2 separate regions of the Homo sapiens genome follow, and region 1 is linked to region 2. Evidence: fine-mapped expression QTL. Tissue or cell type: whole blood. Region 2 holds a variant in brackets; the other region holds the start of a gene. All regions are shown on one strand. Distances are from middle to middle.

The links. PIP is the estimated chance that this variant, and not a neighbour inherited with it, causes the effect.
Region 1: it holds the start of PNMA6A, and the variant in region 2 is fine-mapped to the expression of PNMA6A in whole blood (TOPMed, PIP above 0.99).

Annotation. Positions count from the first base shown.
Region 1 is chrX:153,068,243-153,078,263 of GRCh38, forward strand. PNMA6A (PNMA family member 6A) reads left to right here and starts at 4,212. Exons shown (of 2, transcript NM_032882.6): 1 at 4,212-4,364; 2 at 4,693-6,777. The coding sequence starts at 4,821. The coding sequence ends at 6,020. It also overlaps the pseudogene PNMA6B.
Region 2 is chrX:153,092,890-153,102,910 of GRCh38, forward strand. No RefSeq gene overlaps it. Among named protein-coding and RNA genes, the nearest start is that of PNMA6A, 25 kb to the left of the region's middle. The variant A/G (reference allele first, on the strand shown) is at 5,172.

The sequences.
Region 1 (10,021 bases), 25 kb before region 2:
CAGTGCAAATGGGCTAGACACACAGGCAAGTCCACTCCACCTTCTGGGGCTCTAGCTTGCCACCTGGGGAGGGAGCCCCTGATACCCAAAAGCAAAGACTCAGACCAGCATTTCTCACGTGCCGACACATGTACTGATGCCGCCAATAAGAATATAAACCGAGGGCACGTGATTTGTGTGTCCCAGCAGAGGGGGCCTATGGGAGGAGGGGACAGTTCAGCTGAGACATGAAGGAGGAGGAGGTGCAGGAGGAGGGGGAGGAGGAGGAATAGGAGGAGGAGGAGGAGGAGGGAGAGGAAGAGCAGGAGGAAGCTGCTGCCACAGAAGGTTCTTGGGCCTGGATGGCTCACACAGAGGAAGGAGGGATGGCAAAGGCCGAAGGTGGGAACAAGCCCTGTGCTTTGGGGCCAGCTGAACAGGCCAGATCGGCAGGAATGTGGTGAGAGGAGCTGGGGGCATGGCAACATGGGGTGGATTTCGGGGAAGGAAGGAGAGCATCAGAGGAAGCCAGATCCCCAGGAGCAGCGTGGGGGGTGCTCTTGACCAGGATGGGGACTTTGAGATTACTCTAAGGAGATGGGGTGCCACAGGGAGGAGCAGGGTCTGGTGGTGTTGCAAAAAGATCACCCTGGCTGCTGAGGGGGTGTTGGTGGAGCAGGGAGGAAGCGGAGTGGAGGCAGGGAGAACAGGAGGCAGGGCGGGCCAAGGACCACGGAGATGAGAAGGGTAGCAGTCTTGGAGCAGAGTCAACAAAATCCAATGATGGGTTAGATTTGGGAGTGAGGAACAAAGGAGAGGGGAGAGAATCTTGGCTGCTTTGTTTGAGTCACCAGGTAGGAGGCAGAGCCCTTTGCACAGAGGGGGAAGCCCGGGGACAGTGTAGGCATGGTGAAGGGGACGAAGCCCTCCGGTTTGAACATCTTAGCTCTGAAATGTCTGCGGGGCATCCACGTGGGCAGATGGATGGGTACGTGCGGAGCTTGGAAGAGAGGTCACGTCCAGAGACAGAGCATTCATCGGAGGTGCCGTATGTCCCAGGGTTGAGGCTGGGAGCCCGCCCCCACCACGCTTAGATCCAGCAAAGTAGGAGGAGGAGGAGGAAGGTCCAAGGGCAGAGAGGCAGGTAGAGAGGGAGGAGGTCAGCCCAAAAGTGGGGTGGGGGAGAGGAAGAAGCTGAGAAAGGAAATGGTTTTGAGAAGGAAGGAGAGTCAACTGTGTTGAGAGGTGGAGACAATGGGGACAGAGGACTGACAAAAGAAAGACAGTTGACGTGTCACAGCCCAGCCTTGCCCGGGGTTGGCGGGGGGCAATGGGTGTCCTGCAGCGTCCTGGACTTGGAGTCAGCAGGTGCAGAAGGAAGGAGAGTGGGAAGAGACAAGGCCGAAAACAGGAAATTAGTTGCGAGCCGGCCGGTGGGCTGGCTGGGCCAGTTGGAGACACCAGACCCACAGATGTTCCCAGGGCGGGGGCGGCCGAGGCGGGGGGGGGGAGGGGGGGGGGGTCGGTGCCCTTTCTGAAGAAGGACTCCAGAAAAATCACGGCTGAAAACAAGAGAGAGGACAATATGTGGTATAAGCCGTGACAAGTCTAACACTAAAGGTTCGATAGACAGACACTCTCACAGCAGAGGTAAAGAGCAGCAGTTTGCCTGAATGAGAACAAGCAGTCTTGGCCCTCAAGGGGGAGAAGCGGTGGGGGGCAGGGGGGCGGGGAGGACTGGACACACGAGCCCAACCGGGGAGGCTGCTTTGTGACAGAAGACATGCGTTTCTTCGCTGACCCCACGTTTACTACCTGGGAGGTAGAAAAGCCTGGGGAGCAAGACCATGCCAACCTAAGTACCACACAGAGAGGGAGCCTCCCTATAAGAATGGTATTCAGAAATAGGCACTGCAGTGGGGACGCGTGCGCCCTAGTGAACTATGTGCATATTCAGGCAGGGGAAGGCAGACAAAGGTTTTTCAGGACAAGTGAAGAGGATTACATAATTGTTTTGACATAATGATCTTTGGCTACAAGGATGAATAACAAGGGTAGCATTGGTCAGGGGCTTGGACAGGAAGTTGCTGGGCAGGTGTCCTCACAGAAGTATTATTTGTGTCAGGTTGCAACAGCCTTTGTGCAAATTTGTGGGTTTTGCAGTCTTCCGTGATAGCTTTTGTTATCAGGCATTCGTGCATGGGAACCCTGCCTAGGTGGCCCTCCACAGCTCTATTTGTCAGGTTTTTGGATTTTTGTTTGCTTGAACAACAAGTGACTCCATCTTGATTCTGAAACCTTTCACAACCATACGGGCAAGCCAAAGTCTAATTGTGAGGCCCACTCCAATGCGACCTGCTTCTGGGCAACGTGATAGACTGGCCATGGCTTATATCACAAAAGGAGAAAGGCTTCGATCTTGACGCTAGGAACTTTCTCCTGGAAACGGGCCGATGACGCCTGTCATCTGCGAGATGAGGAGGAAAGGAGCAAAGGAGATTCACAGAAGAGGAACCAGGAACGGCCAGTGAGAGGATGCACGACCTCGCCACCGCTCGGGGAAACGCAAGGCACACAGCGATGAGGTGGTGTCTCTCCCCGTGGGATGGGCAAGCAGGCGAGGCTGGACAGGACCAAAGGCTGCTCGGGCTGTAGGAACCCAGGACCGCTCCCACGCTGCCAGTGCGAGGGAACATGGGTTCAGCCACGCACCGGAGGTCACAGATGAGCAATGCTTGGTTGTGGCGTTGATAGGCACAGCCCAAGTCCCAGCAGAGCCACTGCCTGCTGTGCACCCCAGAGTCTTTCTGGCTGACGGTGGTGGCTCAGACAGGCATGCGGGATGCCACTGGCAGCAGTGTCTGCAACAGCCAAACAGTGGGAAGGACCGGAATGTCCATCCCCAGGGTCATAGACAAATACTCTGGGGCTGTGATTCAGCAAGGAGCTTGGGCGAGCTGGACGCTTGGGGGAAACCTTGGCCAGCAAGTTGCCAAACAGGAGGTCAGGCAAGGAAAGAGAAGGGGATGAGGGAACGACACCCAGAGGTGTGACCCCGTGGGAACCTGTTTGCCACCTGCCTGGTGGAGATGCTGTTCACATGGCCCCAGCCTCCCATGATGGGTCAGGTGCAGGGTGGTCAGATCCACGGGCGCAGAATCTCTGTTTTGAGCGGAGGCTGCTCTGCCCTGGCGCAGTGTCTAGCCCCGGCAACAGAGGACTGGGGAAGGACCTATGGAAGGCTGACTCAGGCCCTGACAGACGGAGGTCTCCAGGGAGGTACGACACCCATGCTGCCCTCAGGGCCAAGAGAGCAATGTCCCAGAGCCCATCAGGCTGGTGAGGGCACAGGGGGCAGGGGACAAATTGAGTAGCCCACTCCGCGCGGACTACCTTTCCAGGCACACACTCAGGCAGAGACCCAGACTCGGGACTTGCGGCTGCAAAACGGACGAGGCCCGGGCATACTTGGGTGCTGGGTCACCCTCCTAGGTGCTGGCTCCTGGCACCAGGGCAGCAAAGTGCTTCGGCCGGAGGGCTGCGGGTCCCTGAAGCCGGATGGGCAGCGGGGAGATGGCAGACCCTCCGTAGGATGGTGTGCGTGAGCTGCGTGAGCGCCTGGGGCATCTCCTCCACGGAATGGCACCCGCACCAGGTGCCCCTGGCCTCGCCTGGCCTTGCCAGCCAGAGGACCAGTCCTGGACGGGGAGGGGGAGGACAAGAGCAGGTGCACAGGCCCCAGAACCCGGCTCCCTGACCCTGGCCAGAACGCAGAGCTGCCGGACGCACCTCAGACCACTCCCTGGCCCTCTGGTGGGCACGCCGGGGTGCACACCCGTCGCCCCGCTGGCGCCTGCCTCCGGGGCACGTGCGGGAGGGGCAGAGGCCTGGACCAGGAACCGCTGTGGTGAGAGCCAAAGGCGCTGGGACCTGCGGCCCACAGACCTTTGGACACCCCGGTGGGGGTGGGGGTGGGCTGGCGCCTGTGTTCCCGGGACCCGCGGCGCGAGGGGAGTGGGGGTGGGGCTAGGGGATAGGAGCAGGTGACGTCACCCGGGGTCCTGGGGCGCTCGGGAAGGCGGCGAGAGCCAGGCCACGTGACCCGCCCGCGGCAACGGCCCTGCGCTCTCCCGGGCCGGCGACGCGGAGGGGTCCGCGCTGCACCGCCGCCGCACCCCGGCCGCGTGACCGCACTGCAGAGAGCGGCTGCGAGCAGGCGCCTGCGCACCGGCCCAAACGCCGAGCGAGCGAGGGAGAGGCACAGTCAGAGGGAACGCCCGCGCGGGGAGCCAGGGGCGCCCGACCCCGCCGCCGCCGCAGCGGCGCGCAGCCCCCGACGCGCCCTGTGGGGACCCGGACCAGGAGGGACCCTGCCCCGGGAAAAGGTATCAGACCCACCCGGGGAGGGGGACGCTGGGTCCCGGGAGACTCCGCCGCCCCTCGCCTGTCCGCCCTAACAGAACTGAAGCAGCCTGCGGGGCAGCGGTCCGGGGTCCGGGGTCCGGGGTCCGGGGTCCGGGGGCGGCGCGGGGATGAGGCCAAGACCCGCAGGGACCACCCCCCCGGGGGGGCGGGGCGGGACAGGGGCGGGGCCTGGCTGCAGAGGCGCGGCCAGGGGAGGAGGGCGGCTGGGGGTGGGAGTGGACGTGGACGTGGACGTGGGCGTGGGGAGGGGTGGGCATTAACCTCGCTCTCGCCCGCTCGCATTCACAGGCTGTGGAGACCTGGGCTCCGACCCCAGTTCATCCCCCCACACCCCCGCCGCCCCGTGCCACCCTGGTCCGCGCTGGGAACCCTATCCTGCCCCTCGTGTCAGCCCGGCACTGGCCAGAATCGCGGGCATGGCGGTGACCATGCTGCAGGACTGGTGCCGGTGGATGGGGGTCAACGCTCGCAGGGGCCTGCTCATCCTGGGCATCCCGGAGGACTGTGATGATGCCGAATTCCAAGAGTCCCTCGAGGCTGCCCTGAGGCCTATGGGACACTTTACAGTGCTAGGCAAAGCGTTTCGAGAGGAGGATAATGCCACCGCGGCCCTGGTCGAGCTCGACCGGGAAGTCAACTATGCTTTGGTCCCCAGGGAAATCCCCGGCACTGGGGGCCCGTGGAACGTGGTCTTTGTGCCCCGTTGCTCAGGCGAGGAGTTTCTCGGTCTCGGTCGCGTGTTCCACTTCCCGGAGCAAGAGGGGCAGATGGTGGAGAGCGTGGCCGGCGCCCTGGGTGTGGGGCTGCGCAGGGTGTGCTGGCTGCGATCCATCGGTCAGGCGGTCCAGCCCTGGGTGGAGGCCGTGAGGTGCCAGAGCCTGGGCGTGTTTTCCGGGAGGGACCAGCCAGCCCCAGGGGAGGAGTCCTTTGAGGTCTGGCTAGACCACACCACCGAAATGCTGCATGTGTGGCAGGGGGTCTCGGAAAGGGAGAGGAGGAGGAGGCTGCTGGAAGGCTTGCGTGGGACCGCCCTGCAGCTCGTGCACGCGCTCCTGGCGGAGAACCCCGCCAGGACGGCGCAGGACTGTCTGGCGGCCCTGGCCCAGGTGTTTGGAGACAACGAGTCCCAGGCGACCATCCGGGTGAAGTGTCTGACCGCTCAGCAGCAGTCAGGCGAGCGTCTCTCAGCTTTCGTGTTGCGGCTGGAAGTGCTGCTGCAGAAGGCCATGGAGAAGGAGGCCCTGGCCAGAGCATCCGCCGACCGCGTGCGCCTGAGGCAGATGCTCACCAGGGCCCACCTTACTGAGCCTCTGGATGAAGCACTGAGGAAGCTGAGAATGGCCGGGAGGTCTCCAAGTTTCTTGGAGATGCTGGGGCTCGTTCGGGAGTCTGAGGCATGGGAGGCCAGTCTAGCCAGGAGCGTGAGAGCCCAGACACAGGAAGGGGCCGGTGCCCGGGCTGGTGCCCAGGCTGTTGCCAGAGCCAGCACTAAAGTAGAGGCGGTCCCAGGAGGTCCTGGTCGGGAGCCAGAGGGCCTCCTCCAGGCAGGAGGCCAGGAGGCTGAGGAGCTCCTCCAGGAGGGGCTCAAGCCCGTCCTGGAGGAATGTGATAACTAGGTTGGGGCTGGGGAGGCAGCCCAGCGCGAGTCCTCCCCGGGCAAATAGGCTCCGAGGGCCCCGGGGCCTCCTCTCCTCCTCTCAGGCAGCAGGGCCCTGGAGACAGGCGGAGGCGGGGCCAGGGCCGGTCCCTCACCCCACATCGGGATCGGGGCCCCCCACTTCCCCCCAAGGGGCCCTGCCCACCACCACCTTCCCGGTGACCCAGATGACCACATTTAATACCAAATGGGGTGGGGGGAGGCGCCCCTCCAGTGCCAGGGGCACGTGCTGTGAGCTTCCTGGGAGCCCAGGTTGTGCTCACTGCTCTCCCGTATCGTGAGCACCACCTCTGCTTTCCCTGCGTAGATCTAGGCCAGGGGCTGCTTGTTTTTGTGGAGCCGTGTGTGTTCTTCTCTGAGCAGCTCCTCCCCAGAGGACCCCAGCGCAGTCCCGGGAGATGGCGGAAAGAAGGCACCAGGGCACAGTGGACACTCATCCCGTGACAGCGATGGTGACCATGACTGTGGGAGAAAGAACAGGACCCGGGATGGAGTGGGGCTGTCTGAGTTTCCCCAGTGAACTTTGTGCTTTGGCGTTCCACCCCTGTTGTTACTTGTTACTGAGTTTCCTAGACCTGGGGTGGGTGTTCCCCCAGGAGGAGGGGGGTCCCGACCTGTGTCCTGTGGTGGCCATTTGCAGCTTCTGTGTTGTGATTCCCTTCTCTTCAACGGTTTCAGTACATATCTCTCTTCAATAAATTTCATTCAGTGTTCCAGCCGGCCTCGCCTCTGCTGTGGGAAACTGCATGGGGTGCGGGGTGCGGGGTGCAGTGTTGGCTGGGGACAAGGTGAGGTGAGGTGCCACAGTGGCTGGGCTAACATCGGGGTGTGTGGGGTGCTTGGTCCCTGAGGGTCTGTGTGGTCCCCTGGGCTGCACGGGATGGCGTGGTAGTCTTGAGCAGGGGCTGATTGGGTTCCCAGGGCACGCTGATCACCTCCCAGGAGTAGGTGGTTTGGACGTTGCAGACAGGCAGAGGGACAGTAGGCTAGGTCCTGGTATCCAGGATCCCTGACAGCACTGCGGGGTGGGGTGGGGGGGGCGGCGCTCAGGGCTTTCAGAAGGGTCAGAGTGGCCACATGTGTAACCTCAGGCTGGAAGCCAAGGTCAGGGAAGAGCCCCAGGAGGGCCTGGGCATGAAGTCAGAGGCCCACACGGGAGCCATGTGGAGGACTCCGCGGGTGGGGGACCGCTCTTGGGAGACCCAGGCAGCTGACACCCTTGAGAGGGCCTCTTTCCCCCTGCCTCTCCCAACCCAGGACAAGGAGTGGGGGGCAGACATCTTCAGGTGCCCCCACCCAGGCCACAGCTGGCCCCGATCCCGATGTGGGGTGAGGGACCGGCCCTGGCCCGGCCTCCGCCTGTCTCCAGGGCCCTGCTGCCTGAGAGGAGGAGAGGAGGCCCCGGGGCCCTCGGAGCCTATTTGCCCGGGGAGGACTCGCGCTGGGCTGCCTCCCCAGCCCCAACCTAGTTATCACATTCCTCCAGGACGGGCTTGAGCCCCTCCTGGAGGAGCTCCTCAGCCTCCTGGCCTCCTGCCTGGAGGAGGCCCTCTGGCTCCCGACCAGGACCTCCTGGGACCGCCTCTACTTTAGTGCTGGCTCTGGCAACAGCCTGGGCACCAGCCCGGGCACCGGCCCCTTCCTGTGTCTGGGCTCTCACGCTCCTGGCTAGACTGGCCTCCCATGCCTCAGACTCCCGAACGAGCCCCAGCATCTCCAAGAAACTTGGAGACCTCCCGGCCATTCTCAGCTTCCTCAGTGCTTCATCCAGAGGCTCAGTAAGGTGGGCCCTGGTGAGCATCTGCCTCAGGCGCACGCGGTCGGCGGATGCTCTGGCCAGGGCCTCCTTCTCCATGGCCTTCTGCAGCAGCACTTCCAGCCGCAACACGAAAGCTGAGAGACGCTCGCCTGACTGCTGCTGAGCGGTCAGACACTTCACCCGGATGGTCGCCTGGGACTCGTTGTCTCCAAACACCTGGGCCAGGGCCGCCAGACAGTCCTGCGCCGTCCTGGCGGGGTTCTCCGCCAGGAGCGCGTGCACGAGCTGCAGGGCGGTCCCACGCAAGCCTTCCAGCAGCCTCCTCCTCCTCTCCCTTTCCGAGACCCCCTGCCACACATGCAGCATTTCGGTGGTGTGGTCTAGCCAGACCTCAAAGGACTCCTCCCCTGGGGCTGGCTGGTCCCTCCCGGAAAACACACCCAGGCTCTGGCACCTCACGGCCTCCACCCAGGGCTGGACCGCCTGACCGATGGATCGCAGCCAGCACACCCTGCGCAGCCCCACACCCAGGGCGCCGGCCACGCTCTCCACCATCTGCCCCTCTTGCTCCGGGAAGTGGAACACGCGACCGAGACCGAGAAACTCCTCGCCTGAGCAACGGGGCACAAAGACCACGTTCCACGGGCCCCCAGTGCCGGGGATTTCCCTGGGGACCAAAGCATAGTTGACTTCCCGGTCGAGCTCGACCAGGGCCGCGGTGGCATTATCCTCCTCTCGAAACGCTTTGCCTAGCACTGTAAAGTGTCCCATAGGCCTCAGGGCAGCCTCGAGGGACTCTTGGAATTCGGCATCATCACAGTCCTCCGGGATGCCCAGGATGAGCAGGCCCCTGCGAGCGTTGACCCCCATCCACCGGCACCAGTCCTGCAGCATGGTCACCGCCATGCCCGCGATTCTGGCCAGTGCCGGGCTGACACGAGGGGCAGGATAGGGTTCCCAGCGCGGACCAGGGTGGCACGGGGCGGCGGGGGTGTGGGGGGATGAACTGGGGTCGGAGCCCAGGTCTCCACAGCCTGTGAATGCGAGCGGGCGAGAGCGAGGTTAATGCCCACCCCTCCCCACGCCCACGTCCACGTCCACGTCCACTCCCACCCCCAGCCGCCCTCCTCCCCTGGCCGCGCCTCTGCAGCCAGGCCCCGCCCCTGTCCCGCCCCGCCCCCCCGGGGGGGTGGTCCCTGCGGGTCTTGGCCTCATCCCCGCGCCGCCCCCGGACCCCGGACCCCGGACCCCGGACCCCGGACCGCTGCCCCGCAGGCTGCTTCAGTTCTGTTAGGGCGGACAGGCGAGGGGCGGCGGAGTCTCCCGGGACCCAGCGTCCCCCTCCCCGGGTGGGTCTGATACCTTTTCCCGGGGCAGGGTCCCTCCTGGTCCGGGTCCCCACAGGGCGCGTCGGGGGCTGCGCGCCGCTGCGGCGGCGGCGGGGTCGGGCGCCCCTGGCTCCCCGCGCGGGCGTTCCCTCTGACTGTGCCTCTCCCTCGCTCGCTCGGCGTTTGGGCCGGTGCGCAGGCGCCTGCTCGCAGCCGCTCTCTGCAGTGCGGTCACGCGGCCGGGGTGCGGCGGCGGTGCAGCGCGGACCCCTCCGCGTCGCCGGCCCGGGAGAGCGCAGGGCCGTTGCCGCGGGCGGGTCACGTGGCCTGGCTCTCGCCGCCTTCCCGAGCGCCCCAGGACCCCGGGTGACGTCACCTGCTCCTATCCCCTAGCCCCACCCCCACTCCCCTCGCGCCGCGGGTCCCGGGAACACAGGCGCCAGCCCACCCCCACCCCCACCGGGGTGTCCAAAGGTCTGTGGGCCGCAGGTCCCAGCGCCTTTGGCTCTCACCACAGCGGTTCCTGGTCCAGGCCTCTGCCCCTCCCGCACGTGCCCCGGAGGCAGGCGCCAGCGGGGCGACGGGTGTGCACCCCGGCGTGCCCACCAGAGGGCCAGGGAGTGGTCTGAGGTGCGTCCGGCAGCTCTGCGTTCTGGCCAGGGTCAGGGAGCCGGGTTCTGGGGCCTGTGCACCTGCTCTTGTCCTCCCCCTCCCCGTCCAGGACTGGTCCTCTGGCTGGCAAGGCCAGGCGAGGCCAGGGGCACCTGGTGCGGGTGCCATTCCGTGGAGGAGATGCCCCAGGCGCTCACGCAGCTCACGCACACCATCCTACGGAGGGTCTGCCATCTCCCCGCTGCCCATCCGGCTTCAGGG
Region 2 (10,021 bases):
TCATAGGCCTTTAACTTGGACATCTAGACTCACCAACTCCTTATAGTTTCCTCTCTAAAGCATACCCTTCTATTTGCACTCAGGAGCTATCTTAGCTCAGGCAACTAGAACAAATTACCATAGATTAAGTGGCTTAAAGAAAAAACAAAAAGATTTATTTTTCATAGTTCTGGAGGCTGGGAAGTCCAAGATAAAGATGCCAGGAGATCCGGTGTCTGGTGAGGGCCCACTTTCTGGCTGTCTTCTTGATGTGTTCTCACATGACAGAAAGACAGAGAGATCTCTCTCCTGCCACTTCTTGTAAGGGCACTAATCACATTCATGAGGGCTCCACTTTCCTGACCTGATAATCTCTCAGAGGCCACACCTCTTAATACTATCAGGTTGGGGGATAGCATTTTAACATATGAATTGGGAGGACACAAATAGTCACTCCATAGCAGGAGCTTATCCTTACTTCCTCCTCAGACTCTTACCCCCCAAATTATTCTGCCTTCTCCTGTTTTTGTCACTCTTCTTCTTGAAGTTATGCTTGCTTTGCCTCCCATCAGAATCAGGACTGCATGTTTGGTCCTCTTTCTTCTTCTGATTAATAGGACTGTGTCTCCTTATTTTGAGGAATTCTGCAAATGTGTACTCAGCATCTGACCCAGTCCCTGAAAGAGATCCCAAAAGACAAGCCCTCAACTTCGTTCTCTTGTGCCTCTCTACCGAGTTGGACGAATGCAGGCTTTTTTCTTTTTTTTTGAAAATGCTCGGTTTGCCTGGTATACACTTGTCACATTCTACTATGCTCCCTCTAGCTCTGCCTACTTCTGGCCCTCCTCCAAATGCTCCTTGGTCCCCTTACCTTCACCAGCTGTGCCTGTCATACACCTGCTACTGATTTAGCTTACTTCAGAAGACACATAGTCCTTTTAGGGATTGCCTTGTAATAATTGAATGTTGTCACCAGTGAGGCAGCTTAGACAGTAAATACTGGGAGCTGTGGGCTTTAGAACTATGTGTGGGACATTTCCTAGCCTGAGGAGAAGTGGAGAGGGATTTCCTATCTCCTTGCCAAAGTTAAATTTTCTTGCCAAAATGTGGTGCAAAACTGAATTATAATAAAACAATCTTGAAGTTAGTAACACGATGCAAACTATAAGTTATTGTCATAGTCTGTTTTGTGCTGCTATAACAAAATGCCTAAGGCTAGGTAATTTGCAAAGAACAGAAATTTATTTCTCACAGTTCTGGAGGCTAGGAAGTCCAAGCTCAAGGCACCAGCATCTTGTGAGGGCCTTCTTGCTGCATCAGCATATAGTGGAAGGCATGAGGGCAAAAGGGGACAAATGCTGTGTCCTCACATGTCAGAAGAACAGAACAGCACAAACCCACTCTAACAAACCCTTTTTATTTAATGGCATTAATCCATTAGGCTCTCATGACTTAAATATTGTCCAAAAGTTCCTATCTCCCAACGCTGTTGCAGTGGGGATTATATGCAACACATGAGCTTTGGGGAACACATTCAGTCCATAGCATTGCCCCTCTGGCCCACAAAATTAATGTCCTTCTCACATACAGAATACATTCATTTCATCCCAATATTCCCCAAAGATTTAACTTATGCTAACATCAACTCAAAAGTCTAAAATTCAGAATCTCATCCAAATCAGATTTATGTTACACACATCTGTGTGAAGAGACCATCAAACAGTCTTTGTGTGAACAATGAGGCTGTTTATTCACTTGGGTGCAAGTGGGCTGAGTCCGAGAAAGGAGTCAGTGAAGGTAGATGGGAGAGGGGCAGTCTTATAGGACTTGGGTAGGCAGTGGAAAATTACAGTTAAAGGTGGTTATCTATTGTTAGCAGGGGAGGGGGTCACAAGGTGCTCGGTGGGGAGCTCCTGAAACTCATTGTCTAGGGGAGGAATGTCACAAGGTCGATTGATTAATTAGGTTGGAGCAGGAACAAATCACTATGGTGGAATGTCATCAGTTAAGGCAGGAACTGGCTGTTTCACTTGTTTTGTGGTTCTTCAGTTGCTCCAGGCCATCTGGATGTATATGTGCAGGTCACAGGCGTTATGATGGCTTAGCTTGGGCTCAGAGGCCTGACATTCCTGTCTTCTTATATTAATAAGAAAAACAAAACAAAATAGTGGTGAAGTGTTGGGGCTGTGAAAACTTTTGGGGGTGGTATGGAGAGATAATGGGCAATGTTTCTCAGGGCTGCTTCGAGTGGGATTAGGGGTGGCGCGGGAACCTAAAGTGGGAGAGATTAAACTGAAGAAAGATTTTGGGGTAAGGGGTGATATTGTGGGGTTGTTAGAAGGAGCATTTGTCATATAGAATGATTGGTGATGGCCTGGATGCTGTTTTGTATGAACTGAGAAACTAAACGGAAGACACAAGGTCTGAATAAGAGAAGGAGAAAAACAGGTATTAGAGGACGAAGAATTGGGAGGACCAAGGACATCCAATTAGAGAGTGCCCAAGGGGGTTCAGTGTAATTATTTGCTTGGTTGGTGAGTTCTTGGGCTCTATCCTTGAGTTTTTCTATGTTGTCATATACCAGGCCAGTTTGATTTAGGTAAAACAAAACAAAACAAAACAAAACAAAAAAACGCTTCATTTAAAAATATACAGAGTCCTCCTTTTTTAGCAGTAAGTCGAGGTCTCAGCTGTTTTGGAGGACAACCACAGCTAAAGAGTCAACCTGGGCCTGAAGGACTGATAAAGTTTGTGATATGTCTGTGATGCTAGCAGAGAAGTCATTAGAGAGGCTATGGAAGGTTGTGACAGAGGTTGAAATGCCTGCTACTCCAGTTCCAAGAGCAATAGTGGAGGCAGAAAGTCCTAAACCGACAAGCAAGGGAATTAGTGGAATAACCCTTTTTTGTTGTGTCAGTGTCATGAAGGGAACAGGAAGCTGTTCGGTCCCATTTGCAAATTGAATTTTGGGAGTAAGGAAAACTGGTGTGCATGCGCCTGTCCAATTAACAGGAAAACACATGTAGGTGGATGAGCCACAGAGGAAAAAGAGACCTTGTGTAAGGCAAAACTGGAAGTGCAAAGTGAAGAGGTGAGAGGGTGTACTAAAAGAGATGTCTTCATATGGCTGGGAATGTGGAGTAGGCAAGAGAAGATTAGCAGTCTGGCGAATTTCCTGTCTAGCCTGCTGAAGGACTGGAAGATAGTCACCTAGAGGGCTGGTGTCTGGAAAAGTTTGGGGCTGAGCAAGAAAGTACGTCCACATAAAAGTTTAAATGGACTGTACCCTGTAGCATCTTAAGGGCAGGCTCTAATTCTGAGAAGGGCAAGTGGTAGAAGTACTGTCCAGTCCTTTTTAAGTTGGAGGCTGAGCTTGGTGAGGTGTGTTTTTAAAAGGCCATTAGTCCATTCTACCTTTCCTGAAGATTGAAGATGGTAAGGGGTATGAAGATTCCACTGAATACCAAGAGCCTGAGAAATTGCTTGGGTGATTTGACTAATAAAAGCCAGACCATTGTCAGATTGCACAGAAGTAGGGAGGCAAAATCGGGGAATTATATCTATTAGAAGGGAAGAGAAGACTGCAGTAGCCTTTTCTGAGCTACTGGGAAAGGCCTCGACCTACCCGGTGAAGGTGTTGACCCAAACCAGGAGATACTTAAATTTACGGACACAGGGCATATGAGTAAACTCAATCTGCCAATCTTGTGTCAGAGTAAATCCATGAGCCTGATGCATAGGAAAAGGAGGAGGCCTGAGAAAGCCTTGGAGGCTGGTGGTATGGCAGACAGAGCATTGAGAGGTGATGGTCTTAAGGATGGATTTCCATGAAGGGAAGGAGATGAGGGGCTGCAGGAGGATAGCCAGGCTTGTATCCCACATGGAAGTGGTCATGAAGGGAAGAAAGAATGGACTGAGCTTGTGAGGCAGGAAGAATGAATTTTCCATGCTCGAAGGACCACTTGCCCTGAGTTGGAAAAGACTGGTAGAGGAGGTTTTCAGAACCAGAGTAGGTGGGAGTGATAGAGGAGAAAGAAAAATACTGGTCCTCTGGAGTGGGGGCTGGAATATTAGCAGGTGTGGAAACATTGGCTGTTTCTTTTGCTGTCCTGTTGGCATAAGCATTTCCTTTTGCAATAAGATCAGTAGGTTTCTGGTGTCCTTTAAAATGAATGACTCTAGCCTTGGCTGGCAGGAGAGCAGCCTTAAGGAGGGCCTTTATGAGGGAGGCATTGATAATGGAAGAGCCTTATGTGGCAAGGAAGCCTTTTTTGGCCCAGATGGCAGCATGGTTATGGAGGATGTGGAAAGCATATTTGGAGTCAGCATAAATGTTAATGTGCATTCCTTTAGTGAGAGAGAGCACACAAGTTAAAGCAATCAGTTCAGCTTGTTGGGAAGTGGTGGAGGGAGGAAGTGCAGCAGCTTCGATAATAGAGGTGTGGGACATGACAGCATATCTCGCTTTAGCTGGTGAAAATTGATTGAGTTTAGAAGAACTGCCATCGATAAACCAAGTATGGTCTGGGTTTGGAATTGGAAGAATAGAAATATGAGGAAAAGGGGAAGATGCTAAGTGTATTAGGGAAATACAGTCATGTGGTTCAGGACTTGTTTTGGGTGCTAAGTGAGAAGCTGGGTTGAAATCAGGCCCATGTGTAATAGTTACTGTTGGAGTTTCAACAAAGAGTGAATATAGCTGGAGGAGTTGAGGGGCAGACAATAAATGTAAAAGGTGTGAGGAGGATATTAATGCTTGAAGGTTGTGAGAACTGTAAAGGGTAAGTGGAGCATAGCCTGTGATTTTGAAGGCCTCTAGAAGTATTAAAGTGGCAGCTGTCACCACACGCAGACATGAGGGCCAGCCCAGAACTGTGAGGTCAAGTTGTTTTGATAGAAAGACAACAGGTCGTGGGCCTGGCTCCTGTGTGAGGACTCCAGCAGCACAGCCTTGTATTTCAGCTGTGTGTAAGGAAAAAGGATGGGATGAGTTGGGGAGTGCTAGTGTGGGAGCTGTCTCCAGGGCCTTTCTGAGAGAGTGAAAGGAATAATGGGGTAAAGACTTAGGGTCTATGGGATCAGTTAAATTACCCTTTGTGAGCTTGTAAAGTGGTTTGGTTAAGATAGCAAAGCCTGGTATCCAGAGTTGGAAATATTCAACAATGCCTAAGAAGGAAAGGAGTTGTTGTTTG[A/G]TGGTGGGGATTGGGGTCTGGGAGATGAACTGAACAATGTCTTCAGGAAGGGTGTGTGTATGTTGATGGAGGATTATACTGATATAGGTAATGCTAGGGGAAGAAATTTGTGCCTTGGAGGGGGATACTCGGTACCCCTTTGAGTAGAGATGTTGAAGAAGCAGAATAGTGTCCTGCTGGGAAGATTGGTAAGAGGGGCTGCAAAGAAGAAGATCAGCAATATATTGAATAAGGTGGGAGGCAGATGGGCAAAAAGAAAGCAGATCATGAGAAAGGGCCTGACCAAAGTAGTGTGGGCTGTCCCTGAAGCCCTGGGGCAGAACAATCCAGGTGAGTTGTTGGGATTGGTGGGTGTCAGGGTCAGTCCAAGTAAAGGCGAAAAGAGGCTGGGAGGAGGGATGCAAGGGGATAGTAAAGAAGGCACCTTTGAGGTCGATAATAGAATAGTGAGTTGTGGAAGGGGGTATTGAAGATAGGAGGGTGTGCGGGTTTGGCACTATAGGATGGATGGGAAGGACGATTTGATTAATAAGGCGAAGATCCTAAACCAACATGTAAGACTTGTCCGGTTTCTGGACGGGTAGGATAGGGGAGTTGTAAGGAGAATTTGTAGGCTTTAAGAGGCCATGTTGTAACAGGTGGGTGATAACAGGCTTTAACCCTTTTAAAGCCTGCTGTGGGATGGGATATTGGCACTGAGCAGGGTAAGGGTGGTTAGGTTTTAGTGGGATGATGAGGGGTGCATGATTGGTTGCCAAGGTAGGAGTAGAGGTATCCCATATTTGTGGATTAAGGTGGGAAGATACAAGAGGAGGATGTGAAAGAGGCCTTGAATTGGGTAAAAGTGCAGCAATGAGGTGTGGCTGTAGCCCAGGAATAGTCAGGGAAGCAGATAATTTGGTTAAAATATCTCAGCCTAATAAGGAAACTGGCAGGTGGGCGTAACTAAAAAAAGAGTGCATAAAATAATGTTGTCCAAGTTGGCACCAGAGTGGGGGAGTTTTAAGGGGTTTTGAATCTTGGCTGTCAATACCCACAACAGTTATGGGGGGCAAGGGAAACAGGCCCTTGAAAAGAAGGTAATGTGGAGTGAGTAGCCCCTGTATCAATTAAACAGGGGACGGACTTACCCTCCACTGTAAGAGTTACCTGAAGCTTGGCGTCTGTGATGGTCCAGGGGGCTTCTGAGATGATGGGGCAGCATCAGTATTCAGCCACTAAGCTGAGGAGATCTGGGAAAGAGTCAGCCAAGGAATATTGGGTTTGAGCTCCAGGAGCTTTAGGAGTGGCGGCGATGTGAGTTGGACAGTCTGATTTCCAGTGGGGGCCCACACAGACAGGGCATGTCTTAGGAGGAATCTTGGGCTGTGGGCATTCCGAGGCCCAGTGGCCAGGCTTTTGGCATTTGAAGCAAGGTCCACGAGGAGGTTTTGAAGGAGCCCCTGGGAGCCGTGGCTTGGATGTTCTGAAGGTTTTGTATGCTGGAGACGTGGTTGTGGGTTGTCTTACAGCGGAGGCAAGTAGTTGTAACTCAGAGATAAGTTGCTGCTTGGCAGCTTCTTCTCTGTTATTGAACACCTTGAAGGCAAGGTTGATTAAATCCTGTTGTGGGGTTTGAGGGCCAGAATCAAACTTTTGGGTTTTTTTTTTTTTTAATGTCAGGAGTGGATTGGGTGATAAAATGCATATTAAGGATAAGGCGGCCTTCTGGTCCCTCTGGGTCTAGGGTGGTAAAGAATCTAAGGGTTGTTGCCAAACGGGCCATGAACTGGGCTGGGTTTTTATATTTGATGAAAAAGATCCTAAACGCTAACTTATTTGGGAGAGGTCAGATAAAGAAAAAGTCACATGTACCCTGACTATGCCTTTAGCTCCAGCCACCTCTCTAGGAGGAAATTGTTGGGCAGGTGGGGGAGAGCTAGTCGGGGAATGAAACTGTAAGCAAGACTGAGTGTGAGGAGGGGGGGTAATAGCAGGGTTATAGGGTGGGGGAGCAGAGGCTGCGGAAGAATTGGGACCCGATTCAGCCTGGCGAGGAGCGGCCGGGGGAGGAGGAGAGAGGTCAGAAGGGTCAGTGGAAAAGGAGGATTCAGAGGACTCTGAGCTTGGGGTGGAGACTGAAGGAGCAGACGGGAGAGAAAGAAGGAAAATCTGAGACAAGTCGCACTGGGAGCAGAGACTAGGGAGGGAGCGAAGTGTAAAAAATGTTTGGACGTAAGGCACCTCAGACAATTTGCCCAATTTTTCACAAAAATTATCTAGGTTTTGTAGGATGGAGAAATCGAAAGTTACATTTTCTGGCCATTTGGAACCATTGTCAAGTTTATATTGGGGCCAAGCGGCATTGCAGAAGAAAATAAGACTTTTGGGTTTTAGATCAGGTGTTAGTTTAAGAGGTTTTAAGTTTTTAAGTACACAGGCTAAGGGGGAAGAGGGAGGAATGGAGGGTGTAAAGTTGCCCATAGTGAAGGAGGTGAAATTGAAGAGAAAGGTAGAGATGTAGAGAAGGGGAAGTGAGCAGCTACCAGGCTTTCATTAGGTGTCCCTGGCTGAGTCCTGGGCTGTAATGTGGGTGATCAGCCAAAGCAGGCATCCCCATAATTGGCTTGCCACGAGGGGAGTGTGGGTGAATGATCAAGGCAGGTGTCCCTGTGAAGATCAGACACCAAGGGACGACTGTCTTCCCAAATCTGTGACCGACGTCGGGGTTTCTGAATTCACAGATAAAATGTGTCTCCTTTGTCTCTACTAGAGAGGAAAAAGAACTGGAATTGGAAGGACAAGGAGATTGAAGGGTAGCAAGAGAGGCTGGAGAAGAGAGTGAAGAGACCACTTACCCAATTTGAAATTGGTGAGATGTTCCTGGGGCTTGTCTGAGGACTGGAGGTCATAGGTGGATCTCCTCATGGAGTGAGGGCAAGGACAGGGGACTGGTCTCCCAAAGGAATCCCCCTGTTCCGGGTTTTTCGGCACCAAATGTTACACACGTCCATGTGAACAGACCACCAAACAGGCTTTGTGTGAGCAGTGAGGCTGTTTATTCACTTTGGTGCAAGTGGGCTGAGTCCGAGAAAGGAGTCAGCAAAGGAAGATAGGAGAGGGGCAGTCTTAAAGGACTTGGGTAGGCAGTGGAAAATTACAGTTAAAGGTGTTTATCTATTGTTAGCAGGGGAGGGGGTCACAAGGTGCTCAGTGGGGAGCTCCTGAGACTCATTGTCCAGGGGAGGAATGTCACAAGGTCAATTGATTAGTTAAGGTGGGGCAGGAACAAATCACAATGGTGGAATGTCATCAGTTAAGGCAGGAACTGACTGTTTCACTTGTTTTGTGGTTCTTCAGTTGCTCCAGGCCATCTGGATGTATATGTGCAGGTCACAGGGGTTATGATGGCTTAGCTTGGGCTCAGAGGCCTGACAATATAGATGAGACTTAAGGTATGCTTCATCCTTAGGTAAATTTCTCTCCAGGTATGAGCCTGTGAAATCAAGCAAATTATGTACTTCCAATATACAATGGTAGGACTGGCATAGGATAAACATTCCCATCCCAAAAGGGAGAAATAGGAGCGAAGAAAGGAGTAATAGGCCACAAGCAAGTCCAAAACCCAACAGGGAAAACAACCATAAATCTTAAGGCTTGAAAATAATATTCTTTGACTCCATGTCCCACTTTCCGGACACACTGATGTGGGGGTGCAGTCTCCAAGGTTCTGAGCAGCCCTGTTCCCATGACTTTGCTGGGAACAGAGCATGTTTCAGCTCTCATGTATTGAAGTTGCATGCCTGTGGTTTTCCTAAGCCGGAGTTGCACTCTGGTGGCTCTACAGTTCTGAGATCTCAGGGGTGACCCCACTTCCACAGCTCCATTAGGCTTTGCCTTAGTGGGGGCTCTCTATGGTGGTTCCATGTGTTTGGCTGGTCCCTGCCTGAGCCCCAAGGCTGTTTGAGACATTCTATGGAATCTAGGTGGAGGACGTCATGCCTCCACAACTCTTATGCTGTGTGTGCCTGCAGAGTCACTTCCATGTCAACACTGTCAAGGCTCATTACTTGTCCCCTCTAGAGTGATGGCCTGAGTCATACATGGACATGCTTCAGCCACAGCTGGGGTGGCTTAGGTGCACCACACTGGAATTTGGGGAGCAGAGACCTGAGGCACCTCTGGACAGTGAGCCCTGAGGTTCCACAGGAGCCCGGGGCCCCTTGCTTTAAACCATTCTGCCCTCAATTGAGGCCCTGGTCCTCTGGGCCTGTGATTGGAGGGGCAGCTTTGAAAATCTCTGAAATGCCTTTGTGGTCATTCTCCCATTGTCATGATGAATAGTACCTGGATTCCTTCTATCCATACTAATCTCCTTATCAGTGGTTGCTTGGCCACACCCTAGAGTATGTAGCAGAAAGTCAACACCTCATTGTAACACTATATCTATGGCACCGCACACGGGGGACCTAAGAAGGAGTAGGCTAGAGCACGTGACCTGAAAGACTATCCAGACCAGAGCTGTGTTCTTCAGACTTTTGCAAGACCTAGGGTTACATGGAGGTAACACAGTGCCACAGTTGTTTGACTCAAATTGTATATACATGCTGCTGTTTACCAGTATCTCAGGAAGCAGAATTTCAGTGACATCCAGTGTAAAAAGGAAGGGCAAAGGGTAGATAAATAAGGGTTTTGTAAACCAAATTCCTGTGTGGGATGACAGCTAATGCTGTATCAGGGATGAAAGCTGTAGACCTAGCTAGAGGCACTGTGTGCCAGCATTAATACAGGTACAAAGAGAAAAGGAACTTTTGAATGACCTGTACCCAATAATTGATTGGAGTTATTGCTGAGGTGACAGAAGATGGTTA